6 separate regions of the Homo sapiens genome follow, and all the other regions are linked to region 1. Evidence: fine-mapped expression QTL. A gene starts in region 1. Each other region holds a variant in brackets. All regions are shown on one strand. Distances are between the middles of the regions.

What was found. PIP is the estimated chance that this variant, and not a neighbour inherited with it, causes the effect. A credible set is the group of variants that fine-mapping cannot tell apart.
Region 2: its variant is the best candidate, but not a certain one, in a credible set for the expression of SDC2 in whole blood (TOPMed, PIP 0.52).
Region 3: its variant is the best candidate, but not a certain one, in a credible set for the expression of SDC2 in whole blood (INTERVAL, PIP 0.76).
Region 4: its variant is the best candidate, but not a certain one, in a credible set for the expression of SDC2 in whole blood (TOPMed, PIP 0.53).
Region 5: its variant is the best candidate, but not a certain one, in a credible set for the expression of SDC2 in monocytes (TOPMed, PIP 0.66).
Region 6: its variant is the best candidate, but not a certain one, in a credible set for the expression of SDC2 in whole blood (TOPMed, PIP 0.77).

What each region holds. Positions count from the first base shown.
Region 1 is chr8:96,491,402-96,495,491 of GRCh38, forward strand. It overlaps SDC2 (syndecan 2), which reads left to right and starts at 2,412. Exons shown (of 5, transcript NM_002998.4): 1 at 2,412-2,930. The coding sequence starts at 2,871.
Region 2 is chr8:96,810,554-96,814,643 of GRCh38, forward strand. All of the region lies in intron 2 of CPQ (carboxypeptidase Q), which reads left to right. Among named protein-coding and RNA genes, the nearest start is that of CPQ, 170 kb to the left of the region's middle. The variant A/G (reference allele first, on the strand shown) is at 2,469.
Region 3 is chr8:96,345,307-96,349,396 of GRCh38, forward strand. No RefSeq gene overlaps it. Among named protein-coding and RNA genes, the nearest start is that of PTDSS1, 85 kb to the left of the region's middle. The variant G/A (reference allele first, on the strand shown) is at 1,975.
Region 4 is chr8:96,833,510-96,837,599 of GRCh38, forward strand. CPQ (carboxypeptidase Q) reads left to right here. Exons shown (of 8, transcript NM_016134.4): 3 at 1,464-1,671. Among named protein-coding and RNA genes, the nearest start is that of CPQ, 190 kb to the left of the region's middle. The variant A/C (reference allele first, on the strand shown) is at 2,252.
Region 5 is chr8:96,355,655-96,359,744 of GRCh38, forward strand. No RefSeq gene overlaps it. Among named protein-coding and RNA genes, the nearest start is that of PTDSS1, 96 kb to the left of the region's middle. The variant G/T (reference allele first, on the strand shown) is at 1,532.
Region 6 is chr8:96,522,566-96,526,655 of GRCh38, forward strand. The region is part of intron 1 of SDC2 (syndecan 2); the gene reads left to right. Among named protein-coding and RNA genes, the nearest start is that of SDC2, 31 kb to the left of the region's middle. The variant G/GGGT (reference allele first, on the strand shown) is at 2,090.

The DNA of each region.
Region 1 (4,090 bases):
GGGGTGTGCCTTCAGGGCAGCAAACAGATAATATCCCTTCAACACGTGTATCCACTTATTCATTTTTTATCACTGTCTGCCCAAGCTGAATCAGAGAGCATTCACCACGCTTCTTGTTACATGGGTGCCCCAGTAAACAGCAATAACTGTGAGAACCAGCAAATCAGTGGAGTGCACTTCCTGTTTTACTGGAATTCCAATTTATTTGATGAATACTTAACTGTTGGGGACAATGGAGGTGTGGCCTTGCCTGAAGGCTGGCGAGTAGACGAGGCCTCTTATGAGGACAGAGCTGGTATTTTATGGCTCTTTGCATGTATTTTGCATTGCTGCTTTTCCTTTGGAGGCCTTTTTAAGAAGTCTCCCCATCTCATGAACCTCTTCAACCCACAGACTCCATCTTAAAAATAAGGGCACTAGGCTGGTGGCTCACGTGTCTAATCCCAGGACTTTGGGAGGCTGAGGCAGGCAGATCACTTGAGCCCAAGAGTTTGAGACCAGCCTGGGCAACAATGGAAAACCCTGTCTCTATAAAAAACACAAAAATTAGCTGGTGTGGTGGCCTGTGCCTGTAGTCCCAGCTACTTGGTAAGCTGAGGTGGGAGGACTGCTTGAGCCTGAGAGGTAGAGGCTACAGTGCAGGCCACTGCACTCCAGCCTGGGCAAGAATGAGACCCTGTCTCAAAAAAAAAAAAAAAAAAAAAAAAGGCTGTGGTTCATTCTTTCAAAAGCTAAGTGGAGCCCACATTGGCACAGATGCCAGCTACAGTGTCTGTGGAATCAGAAGCATCATCTGATGTTACAACTTCTGGCCTATTGCTCTTTTTCTTCTTTCTCCTTTGCCTACTCTTCTATTTCTCCATATTACCTTTTTGTTGGCCAATGCCTTAGACTTGCTCATGAGCATTTGTAGGTTTGGTAGCTGGCACACAAAACCAAAGGAATAAGTGTCTCCAAGTTTGAGTTGTAATTCTCCAGTTAAATTTCTTTCTTTGAGATTTATTACAGTAATAGGTTACTAAGACATTTAATTCTCACTGAGGGTATGACTGTATTTTATTCTAATACTGAGTTGAAAAATTACCATGGCCTCATATCTATATATCTACATTGGTGTATTTTAAAGGCTCACAACTCTTATACGGTATAAATTGAGCTTTAGAGCAAAATTTATTCAAGATAATATTTATCATGTGTCTTTATGTACCAGGAATGAGAATACAATGGTGAACAGACAGAAAAGTCTCTGGTTTCCTGTAGTGGGCATTCCAGGAGCAGAATGGCGTCATAATTCATTTACTCTATAAGTCAGAGAGAAAAATGATGGCACGAACTGCAAGGGATTTGTGTGTAAAATTTGTGACAGTAAGAAAAAGAAACTGGAAGGGAATACGCATTTGCCATGTTCTATAATATGCCACAGACATTGTAACAAAATATTTCATGTCAGCTACTTCCATTTAGGAAATACATGTTCATTATTTTCTTCAAACTAAGAATTACTTTATCCCTCTTTTCTTTGAAGTTATCTTAAATCTGTTATTATTCAGGGTCTCTATCCAACTTCTCATCAAATTACCCTATTTGTAGCTTCCAAACGTTAACACCTATCTGCTAAAATGGAGCCTATAAAAAGCCTTAGTGGCATAAACTGTGTGTGAGGGAGAAATGGTATTTAAGCCCTTAATGAAGTTAGGAGCTTTCAAACTGTTGCACTTTGGGTTTACAGGATCCTTCCTCCATGTCCCTTTTTTGGGGGTGCGGAAGGATTTGGGAGAATGGGAAACACTCTCACTATATATTTATTACATTAATTATCTTCTCTTTTAAAATGCAATTTTCATGAACTGGCGATTTATGAACACTTCACATTGCTTGAAAGCATCTTACACTTTTTTTTTCCCTCAACTCACAAAGCAGTTTCTTTCTACTGGTCGAATTCTCAAGGCAGAAAAGCTACATACGTCTCTCGTTTCTTCACTAATTGTTCTCTAGAAAAGGGAAAGTGAAGAAGGGAAAGAGAAAAGACAACGGGGAAGAAAAGAGCATAGAGGAGAGAGGAAAAGTGGGGAGAGAAAGGAAGAAAAGGACTGAGAAAACGCAGGAGCCCTGGCTTGCCGGTGAGCAGAGCCGGCGCAGCCACAGCGCGGAGCCGCGGCGCCCACTGGTCCTCGGAGCTGCCAATCGGCGTGTAATCCTGTAGGAATTTCTCCCGGGTTTATCTGGGAGTCACACTGCCGCCTCCTCTCCCCAGTCGCCCAGGGGAGCCCGGAGAAGCAGGCTCAGGAGGGAGGGAGCCAGAGGAAAAGAAGAGGAGGAGAAGGAGGAGGACCCGGGGAGGGAGGCGCGGCGCGGGAGGAGGAGGGGCGCAGCCGCGGAGCCAGTGGCCCCGCTTGGACGCGCTGCTCTCCAGATACCCCCGGAGCTCCAGCCGCGCGGATCGCGCGCTCCCGCCGCTCTGCCCCTAAACTTCTGCCGTAGCTCCCTTTCAAGCCAGCGAATTTATTCCTTAAAACCAGAAACTGAACCTCGGCACGGGAAAGGAGTCCGCGGAGGAGCAAAACCACAGCAGAGCAAGAAGAGCTTCAGAGAGCAGCCTTCCCGGAGCACCAACTCCGTGTCGGGAGTGCAGAAACCAACAAGTGAGAGGGCGCCGCGTTCCCGGGGCGCAGCTGCGGGCGGCGGGAGCAGGCGCAGGAGGAGGAAGCGAGCGCCCCCGAGCCCCGAGCCCGAGTCCCCGAGCCTGAGCCGCAATCGCTGCGGTACTCTGCTCCGGATTCGTGTGCGCGGGCTGCGCCGAGCGCTGGGCAGGAGGCTTCGTTTTGCCCTGGTTGCAAGCAGCGGCTGGGAGCAGCCGGTCCCTGGGGAATATGCGGCGCGCGTGGATCCTGCTCACCTTGGGCTTGGTGGCCTGCGTGTCGGCGGAGTCGGTGAGTGGGCCAGGCGGAGGATGCGCGCGCCGTTTAGGGTGTTTGAAGCTACGAGAGGAGCCCGCAGGGAATAGGGGAGCGCCACCTGGGGAACCCCCAGTCCCCAAGTATACACCGGAGATCCGCTGGGACAAATGCGCTCGTCCGGTCACCCTTTCCCCCTCTTCCCTTCCTCAGAAAAGCGCTGCTCGCTGGCGTTACCCCGCGGTCCGCGGGAATGGGGGCACCGAGAATTGCGGTTTGGTCTAGCCGCAGAGGCCCCTGAAGTCACTCCCAACTTCTTCGCCCTCGGCGGGTCTTGCTGCGTGGTCTGGGAAGGACGGAGGGGAAAGGGTGGCAGGAGGGGGGAGCCTGGGTCGGGCCCGCGAGGGAACGGCTCCACTCCGCGCGCTCCTCGAGACCAGGGATGACCTGGAAACTTCGGGGTCCCTTCCTCCGCACACCATCCCCCCCGCGCCAGCTTTCCTGTTTGACTGCATGCAAGTTCTGGGGAGATGGGGGCCAGATTTAAGAGACCCGCGAGTGTCCAGAGAGAAAAGTTTGCAAAAGTTCTTTTGTTTGATGCTCCCTGCGGCTAGGGCGAGGTAACCGACACTACGTGGAATCGCAGTAGGCGATCCCTCAAGGGGATACTGGGGGAGGCACGGAACGCGTCCGAAAATGCTGGGACGCCGGCCACTGGATTCCCAGTCCTGCGGCGACCCCCTCCTCGTTGAGGGGTGGAGGTTGCACCGCGGGGCGTCAGGGACGGGAGGACATTTTCATAGGAGTTACACGGGAGTGCCGCAAGCAGGGCGAGGCGGGGTACGTGTGACACGGCGCTCGGCTTCGGGTCGCCTGGCCGCTGGGGGACAGAGGCTTCCCTCCCGCCACGCTCGCCCTCTCTGGCCCTGGCGGGGCGCTTCTGGGGCCGGGAGGAGTCTCGTCTCCGGCGGAGCGCCTGCCGGCACCCAGCTTCCCTCCCCCGCCCTGGCGGTGGGAACTTGATTTCTCCTTTTGGTCGCGCTTCGGGGGCTGGAGCTTGTTTCCCCACGTCGCCCAATGAGCGCCCTCTAAAGGGAACTGCCTCCTTGGCCTCCTCTCGTCCGCAGCTGCCTCCACCTGGGCGCCAGGAGCTCTGTCGGGCCAGGTGGAAGCTTGAGCACCCCAGATTTCGTCTG
Region 2 (4,090 bases), 320 kb after region 1:
AAGCACTCTGTACCTAGTAAAGCAGTTCACACACATAAGTTATTATTATGTCATTGGAAGAGTGTTGTTTCTCAGCTCTTGGATATAGCAATGTAAACCAAACCAAACGGATAAAATATATTCACCTTCAACTTTAAGGGTAGTGTCTGCATTGCATTGATATGTTCACCTGACTCCTTATAGCATCTAGTTAGAACTTCCTCTGCTCATAAGAGACAGCTATAGTCTTGTCAGTCCTTTCACTCTGTTATTTCTCATTGAAGCAATTGCTAACCAGTGTATATAATTTTTGAAAACATGGATCTTGTTTTATTTAGCTTTGGGTCCTCTATAGCACTTACTAGAGTTCATTGCATCTAGAAATGTTAAAATGGCAAGCCAAGTAGAGGTTAACATAGACATCTAGAGAAATGTTATCCAGTTTTCCAGAGAAGGCTAAATATCAAAATAGTGTTGTAATTAAATCTTATTTTTAGAATCTGATAAAGTAATTTTGGGTTACCACAGAAATCTTTCAAGTTTAAGCTAATAAAATATTAATGTCCTGGATCTTTGGAAATCTACTAATGTCTTCATTTGGAACTTCATAAGAATCAAGAATTTCACTGCATCTAAGATCCGTTTTCCACAAGTCTTAAAATCTGAACTACAGCACGTTATCTATGTGATATTCTTTCTAGCATTTCATAAACGTATTCTTTTAAAAAAATAATTATTTTATCTTGATTATAGAAGAATGGAGTCTATACCTTATTTGTAGGTGATAGAGCAAGCACCAGGCCCTTGACCCACTCTTACTGCCTCCGTTCATCATTATTTTTAGTTTCTACTAACCTTTATTGTATTATTTGGAACAAAATGGAAGAAAACCTAACTGGGTGTATAAATTTTGATGTACATTAACAATTCATCAAAGTGATATTATAGATAATGTGACTGTTTTCATAAACAAAACAGGACTAAAATAAATGAATATGCAGAAGAAAGTGTGAGAGATACTGAAATATTTTGCTGGTATAGTATATTATGCAGATGTTTGCATTTATGAGGTAGAACTAGAAAACAAAAAAACTCTATGTTATAATCATTTTTAATAAATGAATTTTTATTTCCAGGTAATTTATACCTATATTCAAGTCTTGGTAAGCAATTTAAAATAATTTGCTGACTTGTTGATCTCACCTTTCAAATAATATGCCAAGGGCCAATAACTTCTTGCAACATGTATAGATATTTATCCAAATGTGTTTTTGATAAGGATATGAAAATATTTGGGGAATAAATCCAATACTTATGCTTATTTATGGTACATAAATCGGAGTTTCCCATGAGTGACCGTAAAAATTGGAGGAAGTGGAAAGAAAGAGGAACTGAAATATAAACCAAATGTTTGTTTATGGGCTTTATTTAGAAATCCACATTAGTGATTCTGACATTGGGATATTAATCCAAAATTTCCTTTCTTTGTGGATTATTTTCACACAAAATTGTACATTCTCATGAGGCAATTCTCTTTGGAGTACCCATAGAGAATTATTACATTTTTACCAGATAGGTTCTTTTTAATATTCTAATCTAGCAAATTTGCATTTAAGAAAACTACTTTATTCCAGGATAGCTTTTTTGCACAAGTTATTGTTCTGCCCACCTCCCCTCAAATAAAACCAGCATCATAACTTCTCAGAGCTTTGTCTGCTTTCAAGATTCTTTGGCACCTGCACTGGGTTATATGCCATACCAAAAATGTTTCCCAGCCATTCATGTTTAAATACATTTAAGTTTACATTAATTTTTAAAAGGATTAAAAGCACCTTCAAAAATGAAGCATGTATTCTCTAAGCAGCAAGTATTAATTTATAGGGGCTGTTCATGGAAAAAAATGCTGTTATTGTATGTCTCTTGCCCCATGCATAATAAAGAACTTTTCTTTTTGAAAGTAATTGCTGTAAAATATTCCTTGAGGGATCAAAATATTAGTATGACTGGGAAGTAGGATCTCTGTTCTTAGGCAGATTGTTTTGTTACTTAGTTCCAAATATAAAACTGGACAAAAGTAGGTGAGGTAAGGGAATGATAGAGTGGTTAGAAGAGATCTTTAGATAAGAACATCTTTGGCAACAGGGATAGGGCCTTCACGATCTTTCTTAAAATCCTGGAGCGGCAGGCTTCACGTGGGAGGAAACCAGGGGTTGCCACTAGATCAGCTAAGAGACAAGCAAATAAGAGGCTGGGTGCAGAAAATGCTGAGTCTCTCCGAAGGTTTTTCCCTCAAGCTGAGCTGGTGTCTGGTTTTCTGACCACATGTTGTTTCTTCTCTTTATAAGAGTGAAACAACATTCCTGTTTAAAAAAAAAAAGCCAAAATGTTTGTCATCAAGCCTGACAGTGATATGGGTCCTCACTCAAATACAGTGAGACTTCTTCCTACGATATTGGTCCTGTGGAGTTAGGTCAGAAGGATGTGGTTAT[A/G]AAATAAAGTGATTTCATTTTGTTTATCTCCTACTCAGAAACTTTCAGTGTTCCCCCTTTCCCGCAGTGACAACAGGAAAAGGCCCAAAAGCTTCAGCATGGCAGGTGGAGGCCTTCTAGAACCTGGTTCCAATCTTAGCATAACTTTTACCACTTCCTAACTCAAGCCTCAACTCTAGCTCAACCATTCTTCTATGTAATCAAGAGATATTCTAGGCACTTCTGGTGGGAAGTAGAGAATAAGCCAAGGCTGGGAGGGGTGAGGCCTGGGGAACTTTAACAGAGATTAGTACCCAGATCACTAAATTTGGGGTTGGAGGGTGAGGCAAAGAACTCTGGTACTGTCTACACTGACAGTCTTTCTAAGGTACCTTTCCAAGAAGAGAAGACAGTGCTTGCCTAGTGACTGTGATGGTTCAGGGATAATGTGACAATTCTTGACACCCTGCTGTTACTTTACTTATAGATCAGAACATATTCTGTGAGCTGATATATTAGATTTTAGAAGGAGAAGCCAATCCCAAAAGACAGGTAGGAATTAAATGGGGAACTCAGGATACCCAACTATCAGTTTGGTGGCCAGAGCTGGACTTGCTTTCTTGAGGAAATTATGATGAAAACCAGGGCCTGAGTCTTGCAGTCAAACTGGCCTCTGAAAGAGAGGGCTGGAGGTGGGAATGGGTGGGAAAATGGCAGCTCACTCTGCTGCCTAGGACTCATAACGCCTGGTATATCAGATACCAGAAAACAAGTATTATACTATTCCAGAGATTATCTGTCTTACTAATAGGGCCCTGGGTAGGGCAGAGCCTATAGGCTTTTAATTTTGACACCTGGGCAGGACAAGTTCTTTCAGTGACGGACACTTATCTTCCAGCACTATAATAGGCCTCATTATGGTACATATGATAAATTATCTTGTCCAATTAATTTATGCCACTTTAGACTAAGGACTGTCATATATATACATATATATACACACATATATATACACACATACATATATATGCACATATATATATATAGTTTCTTTAGGTCTTACCAAAGTATTAAATACTTTTTGAACAAATAACGTATTTTGGGGGGCATTATTCTGTCCACTTACCTAAATCAAGGATGATATAAACAATAAATACAATTTCAATAAATTAGATTTTAATTTTTTTTTAATGAACAGAAAGCCAATTGATTGGTTTCCTGAAGCTCTATTGTTTCCTCCTGTCAATGGAATACAAAATCACAGGAACTCTTTATCACTTAGATTGGAGATTACGAATGCCGTGAAGGCAAGTAACTGCCTTTCTTCTTCTAATTATTTTGGAAAGAACATATTTTTCACTAGAAAGACCAGAAGCTGGAAAGCCAAAGGCTTTGGCCACAAAACTGTGAAGGGACTCTGGATGGATGGAGGCTCCACAAGAGCTTCATTCCAAATTAAGATGTTCAGGCTACATTGAAGAAAGCAATCTATTTGCCTTGGAAAAATTTATTAGTGCTAAGAGCTAATATATGAAATATACAATCTGTATCTGGATGTTTGCATTTCTCTAAATCTTGCCCTCAACATATATATCATTTTCAATAAATGGTTTTGAGCCATAATTTTTTCATTCATTCTATAT
Region 3 (4,090 bases), 150 kb before region 1:
TCCTGATGGAATCCACCGCCCCTCTGGTTTTCAGATGGGACTGCAATGTTTGTCGGGGGTTTTCCGGAGCTTTGCTGAGCCCCAGGGTCTAGGCTGCCAGGGGCTGCATCTGCTCTGCATCTAGGGAAGATGTTCTTCCTTCTGTGTCTTCTGAGGCTTAGTTACTGCTCTGATCAAAAAAGAGTCTAAAGAAAAGGCACTTCCATTGGCGGTTCTCCCCAAACTGAACTAATTATCTTTCATCCTCCTAACTCTATCCTGTCATGGTGAGTTTAGGTTGGGGAGCTATTAAATGATCATCCCTCCTGCATCCGCTTACTGCAAGCTTTCCAGACAGGCAATGATGGACCACTGAGAACATTTTATCCCTGAACAAAACACATTAGTGTTTTTTGAAAATGTGTTCTCTCAAGAAAGCCAGCCCCATGTGCAACAACCTCCATTTCCAAGCAAGTAACTGTGTTAATCTGACTTCTCCCTAGTGTTAACTGAGCCAAACGTGAATCACTCACTTGGCCACAGGGAGAGGTGGACTCGTCGTTCTGTAAGATTACAATCCCATAATCTGCCTCCTGATCTCTTCTGCTGATGGAAGCCAGAGTCTGGGCTCCATTAAAAGATGACTGGGGAAATAAAACAGAATAGCACATTTTCACCTTCTTTCCGATCCAAGGAGAGTTGCTCCCAGATGCTGTATCTGCAGTCCAGCTTCTGACTTGCAAACAGTTCAAGAAGGAGGCTGTGGCCTGGATGGCAGAACACCCTGTATGAGATAGCTGTCACATGCAAACACGTGCACATGCAGACAGGGGAGACAAGGAGCAACGAAGAAGTTTGAAGGAGGGGGCTCAGGGTCAAGCCTTGGTTGAATCCCTTACATTGCAAAGGTTAAGACACTGAGGCCCAGAGTAGTGCAATGACTTGGCCAGGGCCACAGAGCTGGTGATAGCAGAGCCAGGGTTCAGGCCACCTTCAGATTCCTCCTCCTAGCTTCTTGCCCTTATACACCATGTCCACCCAAGAGCCACTAAATATGAACCACACATTGCTTGTGCAGCCTTGGGGCTTCATACACTTAGGGAATGTGCCCTTTCTACCAAACTTCTTTTTCTCTTCCCTGACACCACATTTCTCATCTTCAGAAGCCTGCTCCACTCTCTGAAGCCTTCTGTCACTGACTAACAGTTCAGAACTTTAAAGGGCATGTATACACAAAAACAGAATGCACCCAGCCAAGGATGCTTATCAAGAGTGGCAAAAAAAACCCGCAAAAGGAGAGTATCAGGAGTGGCCAACCCTGGGGTGATTTGAGGTGTTTAGAAAAAGCAAACGACTATTATTTAAAAGGAAATGGGCACAGCTTACAAACTCCACATATAGAACAAGAGTAGGAGACAAAAGAATGGGTGTTCACTCCTTGGGAATAGAGTTCAATCTGACTGTTTCTCTCTCACTGCTGCAGTTCCTTCTGTGATTTCTCTTTTCTCTTTATCAGGGCTCATAAGCCATGCTCTGGCCCTCCCTCATGTCCCTGGTCCCTTTCTCCCCTCATCTCTGTCCCCGGCCATTCTGGACTGTTTCCATTGCTCGAATATTCATCAGGGTCTTTTTCGTCACACCCTTCCCCCTACCCCGCCACTAGGAAGCTCATCTTCACCCTTTCATTCTCAATCAGAACAGTTCTGTAGCAAGACATGCAGGCTAGCTCGTTACCCCCATGGCATCTACCTCCTTTTGTGAGTAAAGTGAAAATCTGAGGGAGCACGAGTCAGGAATCTGCCTTGACCATGAACCTGAGTTGTTTAGATTTCGTTTATATGTTCTCCATCAAGAGAATCCCATTCAAACTAGAAAAGGCGGTGCACACATGGATAGAAGAGAACTGAAGCCCACAGTGGCAGCTGACTGTGTCAGGTGCAGTAAATATCATGCTTCTGTTGCAGTAAATATCATGGTGCTGAAGTTCATAGTTGT[G/A]GTGGGTTAAACCCCGAGAAACAAGAATGTATTGTATCAGGAGAGAGAAGAGAAAAAATAGATTTTGAAAACTGCAGGTCAACAAGCGTGGTCTTAATCCACAGTAAAATTCTAGAGCAGATTATTAAAGGGTGGTCTGTGACCATCTTTATAGAAGCAAGCATTGATCACTGGGCATTAGCAGAGGTTCACTAAGAACAAGCCATGCAGAGCTAATGTTGTATTGCTTTTACACGTAGTTATCAGATTGGTAGATCAAGGGAATACTACAAATGAGCAAAGAGCAGAGTACAAATCCCACCTAAGCAAAAATAAAATAAAATAAAGGACCTACCTCAACTTTGAGAAACACAGTGTGCTACTGTAGTTTCTCTTGAAGATTCACAGGACACATTAGCACATTAAAGGTTCTGAGAAGTCCTGCACCAAAAAACCTATTTAATACCATCCCACTGATCAAGCATTCTACAGAACACACTCGGAAAAAAAAGAGGATGTTTTGGATGAATTCCAGCAGGTGTTTTGCAAAGCTTTTTATTACATAAACTGTGAGGAGGTAGAGAAATGAAATGTGGAGTTAAAAATAACTCACTGGAATCACAGCTGGGTAGACAACTGTACTGAAAGAGCATTAATTAATCGATGAATTGCCACCCTGTTGGAGGTGTCCAGTGGATGTCTCAAGGCTCTGCTCTTGGTCCTGGCATGTTCAACATTCTTATCAGTGACTTGTATCACAACATTGAAGACTTACTTTTAAAATGTTCAGATAGCCTAAAGCCAGAGAAGCAGCGAATATGCTGTTTAACAAATTGAAATACTCTCTCAAAACCAATAAATGAATCCAACAGGATCCCATTGAGACTTATTAGAAGCAATGGTGTAAGTAAGGGATGGATGAAATGTGACTTGAAACCAGCTCATATGAAAAAGACCCAGGTTGCAGCTACATCAAGATCAGCCCAAGCCAAATGTGTGACAGGTCTACTATGCTTCTTAAGTCAGCGAAGCCATCCTGGGCATGCAAATGGCGTGCAGGGCAAGCAAGCTAGGCAGGATGGTCTGGCCACACTGGGTATTGAATTCTGGTCTTATGGTGCATTTCAAGAGGGACATTGACAAACTGGAGCCTGTTCAGAGAATAACCAACATCAGGAGAGGTCTAGAGAACTTGTATGCTGAGAAGGAAAGTCTGTAGAAACCAGGGATATTTAGATGGTCTATAAGAGAAGATGAGGAGCATGGTGATGACAACTGGCTTTGAGAGGCAGTGTAGTGTAGTAGAAAAGAGGTGAGTTTGTGTTCAAATCTCTGCTCCAGTACTTCCAACTGTGTAACTTAGACAAGTTTCTTAATATCTCTAATGACTCTTAATGTCTCTAATGACTCTTCAGAGTCCTTAGATGAGAAACCATCATCCCTATTGAGTGGCACTATTGGAATGTGTTTGGAGCAGAGTAAGTGGTCAACACATGCTTGTCTTCCCTTTATCCATGTGAAGAATGGCAGTCACGGCAATGAGAAGGGTGACTATTTGCTATAGATTTGTGGGGAAAATTGGGACCAATAGGAGAATTCCCCAAAGGGAGACAGATTTGGTGATGAAAGGCAGGAACTTTATAATAACCAAAAACCTGGAAATCAAAAGAACTGGCTCACTGCCTTTAAGTTGACACTGGAACTTCCACAGATACTTGTAGAAGAGATCTCTGTTTGGGGTGAGAGGTGGGATTAGATGACCCCCCAGATCCCTTTCAACTCTAAAATCCTGTGATTCAAAGATACAGCCAGACTATTTATTGTTCTCTTCTGTATGTAGTTAACTCATATATTCACCCTCCCCATTCATGTATAGTACAGTGATACTTATATGTACTTACTTAAAGTTATTCCTTGGCCATTCCCCATGTATGGGTTTTTCTCTCTCCTCTATTAGTGTTCACATTACAGCCTCGTTCAGGAGCTTGTCCAAAGTGGGCACTTAATAAATGTTAATAGACTAATAAGAGAGGTCTGCGTAGAGTGATGACTGTGAGTCATTACTCATAATGACTCATACAGGCATATATTTGAACTCATACTGTATGACTCCTTTGGACTCATACAGGCATGTATT
Region 4 (4,090 bases), 340 kb after region 1:
TGCAAACCATCAGCCAAGTTCCCATACTATGCCAACAATAACGCCAGTCAAATTTCAAGGTAACTCCAGGTTTCAGAAATGTATGAATCTCAAAATCTGTCTAGCCAAACTCTTATTTGTATTTTTATGTATGCATATTATATGAAAAAAGCTGGTGGTTTCCTTAGTTTCCATAATTATACATTGCTTCTTTTAGACTATAAATTGAGTTCTCAGTGTTGGTGAAGGCATACCTATAGATCTTAGCCAATCACTTTAAAGTGAAAATAGAAATTCAGTCTGGATCATGGTACCAGGGGTAGCCAGCCCAAAGGGCCCATTATGATGAGGCCTATATTGAAAGCAAAAATTCTTGCATACCTGTAGTGCATTTTAAAAGGATTTTCCAAGTAACAGTTAACATTTGTTAAGCTTTCAGAAAAACTTATTTCTCTAGTTTTTAATATTAAGGAAATATGGAAATATATGTTGATACTTTGTTTTTTACTGACATACTTCATGACTGCATGGCTAAAGCCACAAAACACTAGGCACTTACCACTTTCTTTCTTTTAGATATATTTAGCCACTGCATCTGGCCTTTGTTGCCAAATATTTTTTCCCTTTTACTCTAACTACTCCATCAATTTGGATCTTTAATGGTCAGGCAAATTTTGAATGATTTCTTGGAAGATGTGAAACCCTGTTCCCTAATCAGGAAAATGTGGGCAAGTCTTATGGTATGAGAAAAGAAGGGACATCTCTTCTAACAAAGACAACAGGATTATAGCGCCATTACACAACATCTTCAAAGTTTTTATTTGAAAAATAATGATGTGTTTGGTGATGAACAAGTACCGTAAATGGGAAGCATGGGAAGTTTCCACTCTTTAAGAATGTTTCTATGCAAAGGAGGAAGGAAAGCTTACTTTTTGTGGTTCTTCAGAGAGATTACATTAACCATTTGTTGAAAGTTTCATTTATGAACAACATTGGCTTCTAAGAGTATTCTTCACACACTGGCATCCTTTGTATGATGTTGTTGTAGGTTGTTTAGCAACATATCAAAATAGTTATATAAAAAGATTAATATGTGTTTCATTAATCCTAAGGAGAGCTTTCTGAAATTCATTTTTAAAAATAAATGATTAGCATCATTCTTTGAAATTTGTGACTTCTGAGGGTGGGAAAGAATTAAAAAAGAAGCTATCTTTTCAAGCAGTTTGTGATTTAATACCAGCTGGTCAAGTGAGTTGAAAAACCTTATGATTTTTATGTTATATTATTTTGAATGCCTTTTCACTCTCTTGGGAAGTTGGCTAACCCCACAGTCCTTTTCCCATGGTAAATGGCTCTAAAACTTTGATCTTCTTATACCAGTTTGCCAGATGTAGCAGAAAGAGCATGTATGTGACCTTTCCTGTGCCAATTCAACCCAGCTGATGGGAAACTGTAAGTTAATCTTGCATGACTTTTATTTCTAGGCATTACAGCAGAAGTTCTGGTGGTGACCTCTTTCGATGAACTGCAGAGAAGGGCCTCAGAAGCAAGAGGGAAGATTGTTGTTTATAACCAACCTTACATCAACTACTCAAGGACGGTGCAATACCGAACGCAGGGGGCGGTGGAAGCTGCCAAGGTGGGGGCTTTGGCATCTCTCATTCGATCCGTGGCCTCCTTCTCCATCTACAGGTTTGTCACAATGTTCATTTGAATTCCTTTCAAAAACAAGGGTTTTCCGTGAAGGAAAAGTCCTTATGAAGTAAAAACAAACCATTCAAATGAAAATACTTATTGTTCATGGAGTTTCCCCCCCAAACACACACACCCATTCCACATTTGGTCATTTGTTTGTAATATCTTCTTTGGCTTTTCTGGATTCCAAGCATCACTTGTGCATTCCTTTAAAAAGCTTTAAGGCTTTTCACATCCACAGTGATCCCATTACATTCCTTATATAACTAATATATTATGTATTTTCATTGGAGGAAGAACTGCGTTCATGTCTGCATTTCATCAAAGATTCCTAATGACTTCAGAGGGAGCCAGCCTGTTTTCCATGTTGCTAGAGAAGTGGAGTAAAAAGAGAGTGGGTGACATGATGGGGGCCATCTATGGTATAGTGAAGAGTTAGGGAATTAGAGGAACTTGGATACAGACTTGGCTCTGCTCCCAAACAACTAGGTGGTCTTAGGAATGTTTCTTAAACTTCTCTAGGCCTCATAATTTTCTTCTGTTAACCAGGGGTAAAGAATAATAATAAATGTACAAA[A/C]TAATTTTGAGATTAAATGAGGTCAACTTGAAAAAGATACTTAATTATCTGTAAATGATTATCTACAAAGGTCCATATAAATATTTGGTAATATTGTTTGAGAGTAACATAGGACTTGTCTTTTTCTTTGTAGTTTTGATTGAGGTAATGCCAAATAACTTTATTGGCCCTCAGTCCTAGGATGAAATTCAGTATTACAGTGGATAAAAAGTCTAAAAACTGAGATGTAGATGTTCAGCCTAGTTTAATAGCTATTATGGCAGTGTCATACGTTAAGGATAAAATATTTGAGAAACATGGGGAAAAGAAGCATAACTTTAGTGTGATAGCCTGGCCTAAGATTTTTTTAAAATGCAAAAATAATAGCAGATAGGGTTTATTTGGGTCTCCGGATTGGATTTTTAATATCTATTGGAAAGGGAAGTTTATTTATTCTGCACAATTGCTATTTGGAACTGGAGACACAGCTGCTTGACCTTAATTAGCACCCTACACCCCTGAAAATAAAAATAACTGGGGAACATATGTCAGCAGCTAGGAAATCCAGTCAGAGGAAAGTTGTACAAAAGTGCAGGGAAAAGGAAAGAGACATTTTCCTTATACAGGGATAAGATATCTTCCCAGGGGAGGAGGATGGGGCATGTTAAAACTACATGTTAGAAAGTTATACGACTAGTTACATTGATGTCATAGTGCTAAAAATAATGTTCTTTGCGGGGTCTTTAGAGGTTTCAAGACTAGTGAAATAATGATTGCACCATATTCTTTTGGATGATTAAGCTTCCCAGGAGGGAAGTCCTAAAATGGCTAGCTTACTTCCCATAATACCTCCATCACCCCTTGGAATAACATATTCAGCAAGCTGTGGCCATTCACCATGATTTCACGGTCATGAGACTTAAATTATGGAGCTGGTCTGTTGCTTTGTGAAACTGGGTGATTGCCAGAAACCTTTATTTAAGAACTACTACTCATAAGACTAATAAATTCCCAAATGATTTAATGCACAGTAATTTGTCAGGATTCACTGGCATTTTTTTTTTTTTTTCTGGCATAATGAAGACATCTGGAAACCCAAGCTACAACTTAGGAGTACCAGTAGAATTGTCCAGCAAGGGACTTCAGAATCTGTTGCTAGCCTCTAAGACTGATTATAATGTTTCACTGATTTTATAGCCAATCCATATTTCACTGGACTCTTAACTTGTATAATTCTATTCTTTCAACATTTATAAATACATAATAACATTGGACTTTACATAGCACTTTAGAATCTTTCCCATGTTACTTTATTTGCTCTGACAACAATTCAGTGGCTCATGCAGAAGGGTCATTATTAGCCCTATTTTATTGATAGGGAAATAAAAGTTCAGACAATTAGACATATTAACATGTTTAAGTTTTGCATCCTAAGAAATAAAAACGAAAATAAAATGAGATAAACTATGTTTGTCTACTTCTAGCTTATTGTTTTTAGAACCAAATTTCTTTGATGAGTATTCTATATTCCTACCTCTAATTCCTCACCTTTCATTTGCTCTTCAGACTATTATAGCCTGGCTTTTGCCAATACTGAAACAGGACTTGTTAAGGTCGCAAATAACTGCCTACGTGTCAAATTTAATGGACATTTTTCAGGCCATCATCTTACTTCACTTTTATGAAGCACTTGCCTCCATCAACTGCATTTTCAGTGTTTCTTCTCTTTGGCTTCCATGACTTCTTTCTCATGTTTTCTCTCTCTTTCTTGCTTGCTGTCACTCTCACTCTCTTCTCTATTCCTTCCCTATATCTCTGGCTTCTCACTGTGACTGTTTGACCTGTGTATCCTCATCATGC
Region 5 (4,090 bases), 140 kb before region 1:
CTCATGTTTCAGGGCGGGCGCACTGGCTCACGCCTGTAACCACAGAGCTTTGGGAGGTGGAGGCAGGAGGATCACTTGAAGCCCAAGGAGTCTGAGACCAGCCTGGGTAATATAGCAAGACCTCATCGCTACAGAAAAAAAAATTAGCCGGGCATGGTGGCTCATGCCTAATAGTCCCAGCTACCTGGGGAGGCTGCGGTGGGAAGATGGCTTGAGCCCAGGAGTTCAAGGCTACAGTGAGCTGTGATCATACCACTCCACTCCAGCCTGGGTGACAGGGCGAGACCCTGTCTCTAAAAAAAGGAAAAGAAAAAAAGAAACCCATATTTCAGTCCGTGACAGACCGCATATACAATGGTGGTCCCATAAGATTATAATGGAGCTGCCCTATACAGATGTACCATTAAAACATTTTTATCCCATATTTTTACTGCACCTTTTCTATGTGTAGGTGTGCTTAGATACACAAACACTTACCATTGTGTTGTAGTTGTCTATAGCATTCAGTATGATAACATGCTGTACAGGCTTTTAGCGTAGGAGCCATAGGCTATTCCACATGGCCTGGGTGTGTAGTAGGCTATACCACCCAAGTTTGTATACATTCACTCTATGATGTTTCGCACAATGGCAAAATCGCCTAAAGACACATTTCTCAGAACATATCCCATCATTCAGCAGCTCATGACTGTGCAGGGCTAGGTCAATACAGGATAGCTCTTGCTGATCCTAGCCTGAGTTTGTCCACTAGGCTATGCTGCCTCTCACTCAGATGAAAGGGAAGAGCTCTTGGTGGAGACTTCTGGAGGACTGTAAAGGAACATTGGGCCTGACTGCAAAGAACTGAATGCTGACCTCATGCTTCCCAGTTTTCATGGGCTGTGATGAACAGGATGGAGTGGCGGTGGCAGACTAGAGTGAGGAAGAGCAATGAGGGGCCACTGAGAAACCTGCAGATCCAAGGGAGAGGCAGGGAAGCTGGAAGCAGGGGAAATGGGAGGCCATGAGCAAAGAGAGAAGAGGCTTTGGTGATTCTGCCTTATGTAAGGGTCGGGGTGGGGTTGGAGAAAACACTGGTGACAGTGAAACTAAGATGTCAAGGAAAGGCATGGGTTTACAGGGAAAAGGGCTGAGTCTGTTGTATTTGAAGTTCTGGAGAAACTTCAGCATCTAGCCTTCTGGTCTGTGCTGGAGAGTGGTTACTGCTGGACCAGAGGACTCCCCTCACGTTGAGTTACTGAAAGCCATGGTGGGAACCGCGGATGGATGAGACCACCGGGCAGAAAAGCCGAGCAGCTCCTGAACAGTGAACCTTTGGGATCACCACACTGTGTTTCTCACAATTCAGTATCGCTGCTTCTCAGTGGAGGCTCTGCTGCCTCCATGGGAGAGCACTGGAAAATAGAGGGGATGCTTTTGATTGTCCCAGTGGTTGAAGGATGGTATAGGCCTTCGATAGATATACAGTGACACAGGGAAACAAGATGTTCTGCAATGCACAGGGCAGCTCTGCAAAGTGAAAAATTTCTCT[G/T]GGGTCCTCTTGATTTGTAAATATCTCATTGGGCTTTCATTTAGGTGAAAAATCTATTTTGAAGTCTCTTAGCCCAGAACCTAATTACAGTTTCCATATATACCTATATATTTTACTTCATTTAAATTTACATGCATTTTTGTAAGAATGTAACCATATAAATAGAGAGAAAATTGTACTTTGTTTTGTTGGAATTTTACTGAGCTGTTTCATTTCAGGACATCATGTTTCTGCTGGCAACATCACTCCTAAAATTTGAGTTACTACTCTGCATTGATACCTATCCCATTAGTGGTGATTTTACATATTCATTGAAGCATCTGATTATTTTGTATTAAGTGGTCATGTCTAACAGTAAATTAAAATATATTTTTTCTCTATAGATTCCTTTCATTTATTCTATATACTTACAGTTAGGTTATTATATTGTTCTTTTTTAAAAATTATGTGTGCATATGAGTTATTTTATCTATACAGTTTATTTCAGGAGAGTGAAGAGAGTGTTACAAATTCATTGTGGTAAGGAGGGGTTGGAACTGATGAGGTTGAGAACCGCTAGTTCTAAACTAGCACTATCCAGTAGAAATATAATAGGAACCACAAATACATTTTACATTTTCTAATAGTCACCCTAAAAAAAAAAGGATGGAATATTACTCAGCCTTAAAAAGAAAGTAAATCCTATCACATGATATGACATGGCTGAAGCTTGCGGACATTATGGTAAGTGAAAGAAGTCAGTCACAAAAAGACAAATACTGTATGATTCCACTTATATGAGGTATCTAAAATATCTAAATTCCTAGAAACAAGAAGTGGAATGTTGGTTGCCAGAGCTGAAGAGAGAGGCATATGGGGAGTTTTTTAATGGGTATAGAGTTTCAGAGTTGCAGGATGAAGAAGTTCTGGAGATCTGTTTCACCACAATGTGAACATATTTAACACTACTGAACTGTACACTTAAAAGTGGTTAAGAGGGTAAATTTTATGTTAGTGTTTTTTACTATAATAAGAAAAGAAGAGCGGGCAATACTAATTTTCATAACATGTATTTATTTAACTCAATATATTCAAAATACTATCATTTCAATATGTAATCAATATAAAAATTATCAATGAGATATTTTATATTCTCTTTCTTGCACAAAGTCTGAATTCTATGTCCATTTTACACCTACAGCACATATCAACCAAGACTGGCTGCATTTCCAGTGCTCAAATGCCATACATGGCTAGTAGTTAACGGCAAATGCTAACTACACTTGTTGAGCAGACCTTCAGCACCAGGCACTGCTGTGGGTCCTTTACATAGAATTACTCTTCCCATCCTTGGCCCTATGAGATAGGCACCAGGAAATTGAAGCACAGAGACCTTGAATAGCACACTTAATGTCAAGAGAAATTGTGGCCAAGTGGAGAGCTGAGCCTAGGCATTCTGGCTCCAGAGCCCGTGCCTTAATCACTGTGCATAGGCACCCTTGTGGGGTTTTTCTCCTGGACTCCTGTTCTGGCCAAGTGGGAGTCCACCCAGCCTCTTTTCCCAGTGGGATACTAGGATTGTGCTTCCCTGGGCTTGCTCTTCCATGGGCTCACATATTCCATGGAAGCACACTCCTAGCATCTCCCTGGGAAACTGAACCCTGGCTGCACAGGCTTTAGGGAGTCAAAATCTGGCTGGCCCCCAGGGAGCCAGTTAGGCTTGTCTCTCCCTGCTTTCCTGCTAAGCATAGCAGACGCTGGCCAGCCCGTCTGCACGGAAGAAAGAAGCCTGGGTTTGCTTCACAACCGCCTTCAATGTTCTCTATTCTCTGCATTCCCATTAGGAGAGGTAGTGGGCCTGGTGAATCAAGACAAAACACACAGATGTGGCAGAAAGACGGTCCCAACATGCACATCTAATAACGACTTGCCACCAGGACCTTGCTGGTGAATCACTTGCATTTCCAATAACTTTTTCTCCTGAGTTTCCCTTAATAAAGACAGATTTCTTCATTTCCTGGGGCTCCCTCAAGATTATACTGACAACTTCTCCATTAATTATCAAATTATGCCCCATCACAAAATGATTACATCTGCTTCCTACCTAAACACTTCCCCTCATTTGTGAAAAGTCTCATTTAAACTAATATGCTTTTAACTTGCTCAATTTCAACACCTCCATAGAGGCTACTAATGAGCTGATTCCTTGCCCAGCTGGTCCCTTGGCCCTTCCTTGTGTTCTCCGTTCCAAGACCAATTTAGATCTTGCAGTATGGGAAAGGGGAGGACTCACTCTTTGAGTTGGATGCTTGGTGGGAGCCTTCTTGAATGACGTGTATACTTAAACACAGGACCTTGAGTCTGAGCCCCCCACAAAAGTGAGACTCCACTTGCTGCTTCCAGAAATGTGAAAATTGCTTTAGAGTGGGGCCACAGGAGCAAAAGAGCCTCCCAGTTTCAATGGGGTAGCTTAATGACTCAGGTAATTAGACCCAGATTCCCTTTACAGGGGCCTCTTAATTATTATTTAATAAAGAGATGATTCCAGGCTATGACCCGCAAGGCTGGCGGCATTATAAC
Region 6 (4,090 bases), 31 kb after region 1:
TTTCTCAAAGCTGTCTCTGTACTGTGCTGATATCAGAGGAGTCAACTAAAAGTGATTTTCTCTGTAGACAGTTATTCTAGTTTATGGGATGTATTATAAAACTATTGGGGAAAATCACTGAACTACTAAGGTAAGGGAAATAGCTTAAGGATCTATGATCCATATTTGAAATAGTCATTAAGTTATATAATTGGATTTTTAGAGAACAAGATAGAGCAGTTTCAGGATGTAAGGTGTAAAATAAATCTGGTCCATGAACTGCTTCCAAATTGTCACCCTGACCAGAAGAAGTAACATTCCTCAGGTTGTGGCTTTATCTAGAAAGGGGAAATGGCTATTTCTGGATTAGCTTTATACAAATGAGTGTATTTCCCACCTGCTGCTTTTGCCTAGGGTTGGAATTTTTCCTTTTCACTGCTTGTTACTTGGCGTTTGGATGGAAACGTATCCTCCCTTTCAGAGCCAGAAGATTCTGTGTGAGTCATCAAGAAAAATTTCTCCGAGGAGTTATTAATTCAGTTAGTTGCTCCATAGTAAATGGTTCATGCAACAGTGATAAACCTCTGAATTTGAAATCTTTCTTTAAAATCTTTTTTCCTTCAAAAAATGCATACAGTGGATTGCTGAGCATCTAAAATCCCGCACTGTTCAGCACTGTCATTCTTGGTAATTGCTTTTTAGAGGATTTGGTGGTGTTTTGCTGCTTAAGCTAAACCACGAAGTTAAACTTTTGTACTGTGGAAGTAGTTCATGAATCCTTTAGATTTCTTGGAAGAGGAAAGATGAGTGTGTGGTGAATATATATGAATATCGCATATTTGAATGTGTTACTTACTAGTTTTGGTTGAGCATTAAGGTTGCCCCTAATGGATGGGATCTCTGCCAGGGGTAACTCTTGGAGTCCTAGGTGCTATTGGGGAGGAACCTTTCATTCTCGGCATTCTGGGGGAGATTTACATCTGTAAGCCGGATAAAAATATGTGGAAAGGTGATTAGTTTAATTGGCCCACTATTATAATTATTCAGTAGGAGGTGGCTGTGGGACTGCTATTATAGCCCAAAATGCCTGGTAGGAAGAGGCGGAGACTCATTGAAAACAGCAGCAAGGTTATAAAACGTTGGTTTAAACGTGCATTTAATAACAGATTACCCTGGTGCTTTAAAGACAGAGGAATGCTTAAGTATTTGGTACAAGAATCCATCCAAAAAAAGACGCGGATTTTTTTTCAAAGATAATTGTGGGAAATTCTGCTAATGATTTCTTTTCCCTTAAAATATCATACAGGGGAGTAGGATTTAGGTAGGTGTAAAGTTGCTCAACGTGTTGGTAACTTTAAGATTATTTCTTCTCTGGTTGTTGCCACAGACACTCAGGGTGGCCACAATGGTGGTGTTGTTTTAGGCTTCTTTCAAAAAAGAAGTCCAGTCCAGGATAATGTTGTAAAGTGGAGTATTTTTCTTTCACATCAAAGGGCAAGGAATGTTTTACAGACAGTGAGCTAAGAAGTAGGGCACAGATATTTCAGTACTTGCGTTGGGAAACTATGTGTGGAATGTCATAGTTCATATACCAGAGACCCCGAAGTGAATCCAGGTGCCTGCACGGTGCTGACTTTTCCTGGAGTGAGATGACTGTAGGCAGAAATTGCAGCCAGATGAACCTAAAATAAAATTGATGGCTTTATTGGACATTCTTTTCATGAGATTTAACTTCTTAACGTGCACATACATCACTCTGGGGATGTCATTATCATGGCTGACCTTTCGTTTGGGGGAGCTGCTGCTCGCTGTCTGTGCAGCTCCGATCAGCTTGGCTTTGATTACCACCCACATCTGTTGAGCATGTGAGAGAGAGATTTTGAAAAATCTCAAGCACACTGACAACTGGCTACAAAGATTTAATTAAGACCGGTCAGAACTAATTTCAGTTATATATTCCAGTTTAGGGTATCAACTCCTCTGGTTTCAGAAGGGGGAGTTATGACTTCCTAAAAGTTGTTGTTGAAGGCAGCATGAGGAAATCTCCTTGGGCAAGCAGTGGGTTTCTTTGTCCTAGCTCCCCCACTGCTACCTGGGGTTAATGATTGCA[G/GGGT]GGTGGCTGGCGTAATGAACCAGTGCCGGAAAGCTTATTATCAACATGCTGAAGTCATATTTAGAAATCATTCCTCCTCCTTTTTTCTCCTTTCCAATACAAGTCAGAGCACTGCTGTGGTTCCACCTAATAAATACTGCAGGCTTCATTGGGCTGTTCAATGAGACCTAATATAGTATCATTTGTGCACTTTAGTGGGTGGTTCCTATTTATATTTTTGTGTGGTTTACTGCTCAATCTTGGGAAGATGTGGGGTTTGAGGGTTTATCAGTTGCAGTTTTTTGTGGAACCAGTTTGAGTGAGACAAGACTTTGGCCATTATTTGTCGGGTTACATGGATCTCCATATGAGCTATGAAGATACTGGAATAATTGGGTCACAATAATGTAAAATCGTAGTCTGTACTTTCAGCTCATTCCAGAGGAATGATTGGAAGCCCTGCTCTCCCTCTCTTCTGCATGCAAACCTCAGGTGTGATTTCGGCCTGTGCCCAAGTGTTCTTGAAATGTTCAAGGCTGTCCGTTCCCACTCTGTGATGAGGCTTCCGGTTGATGTGTGACATCACTTAGGGCAGGAACTGGCACTGTCTTGATCCTGGCTGTCCTAGAGAAGCTTCTGTGCTTGGCCTTGGGAAGCCACCCCATTTGGTGCTGCTGTAGTCTCCTTTCTGCTCCTCTTTTAACAGCTGCCTCCCACCTGTGCTCACTTCCACCTGCAGGCCTTGTTTTCCAGTGGCACTGGAGTGCCATGCTGAGGTCACTGGACAAGTTCCTTATCAGAGCCCCCTTCCCATTAGAGTGAGGCTGCACCCCATCCTGCCTGGGCTTACTTTGTGCGTTGCTTGGGGGCATGGAGAAGGTTCTTGCCCTTGCTGCTTTATATGAGGTCCAATTCCTCCAGTGTTTGCCATCTCCTTTAGAGCTCTCTGGTGACAAAACCTTCTTCAGCTTGTCTACCCTCCAGGCTGGTGAGTTGAACTCAGACTGGTGCTCGGAAAGGTTAAAGGACTTGTCCAAGATGTTACCTTACTGGCAAACTGCATTCCCAAGTCTTTATTGATCTCCGAGGGCATCTCTTAATTTGTTGGAGTTTTCTTTTCCTGGAAAAAATACTGCTTGGGTCTCAGTTTCTCCACATATAAAATCAGAATAAGACCATAAATTCATGTAGTTGAAAGGGGCGGTTTCAGGAAGAAAACTAAGATAATGAAAGCCTCCGGAAAAGGGTCTGGGACGACATTATTTACAGAGTACTTTCCACACATTGTCAGGGTGGGGCCGCACAGGAACCTTGTGGGGTAGGCATCATTGACCTGTTTCAAAAATGAACAAAGTCAGTCCCAGAGACCTTGAATGGAGGCTTATCAAAGCTAAGCATACGGCTTCAAGTTTAACCGTCAAATGGTAGAGTTAGTCATGGCTTTTGGATGTGCGGGCCAGGCATGGTGCAGGGCCAGGTATGTTTTAGCCTTGTGGTTCTTTTCCTGATATTTCGGTCCTGTGGGCCTCCCCAAAGTGGCTTTGCACCTATGTTTGTTATGGGCATAAGGAAGTTAGAATTCTATGAATATGTACTGATTTTTTGTGATTCTGAATTTAAATAGGCCTCTATAAAGCTAATACTTGAAGTTTTGTTGTAATGAAGCATCACAAATACTTTTACATAGGAAAAAGGACCAAGCTGATCTCCTTAAAGCGGTTGCAAAAACCACCCAGTTGTTATACGATTGTTTGTTTCATGTTTCTTGTTATGTGGCATATTTCCAGTAAGTGGAGGGACCAAATATTTTATAGTTACAGAAACTTCTTCTCTCCCTCCTTGAAGTTTAAAAAAGTGGATCAAATGTCTGCCTATTTTCAAGGAGGCAGGGAGACAGAAGATCTTTTCCAGATTGCAGGAAGGCCAACGCAGGTTGCACCCAGAGAACTATGGAAACCACTGTTGAGGAGGAAGGAATTGGGTGAAAATTAAAGAATCAAGCTAGTAAAAGTGAAAAGAGGC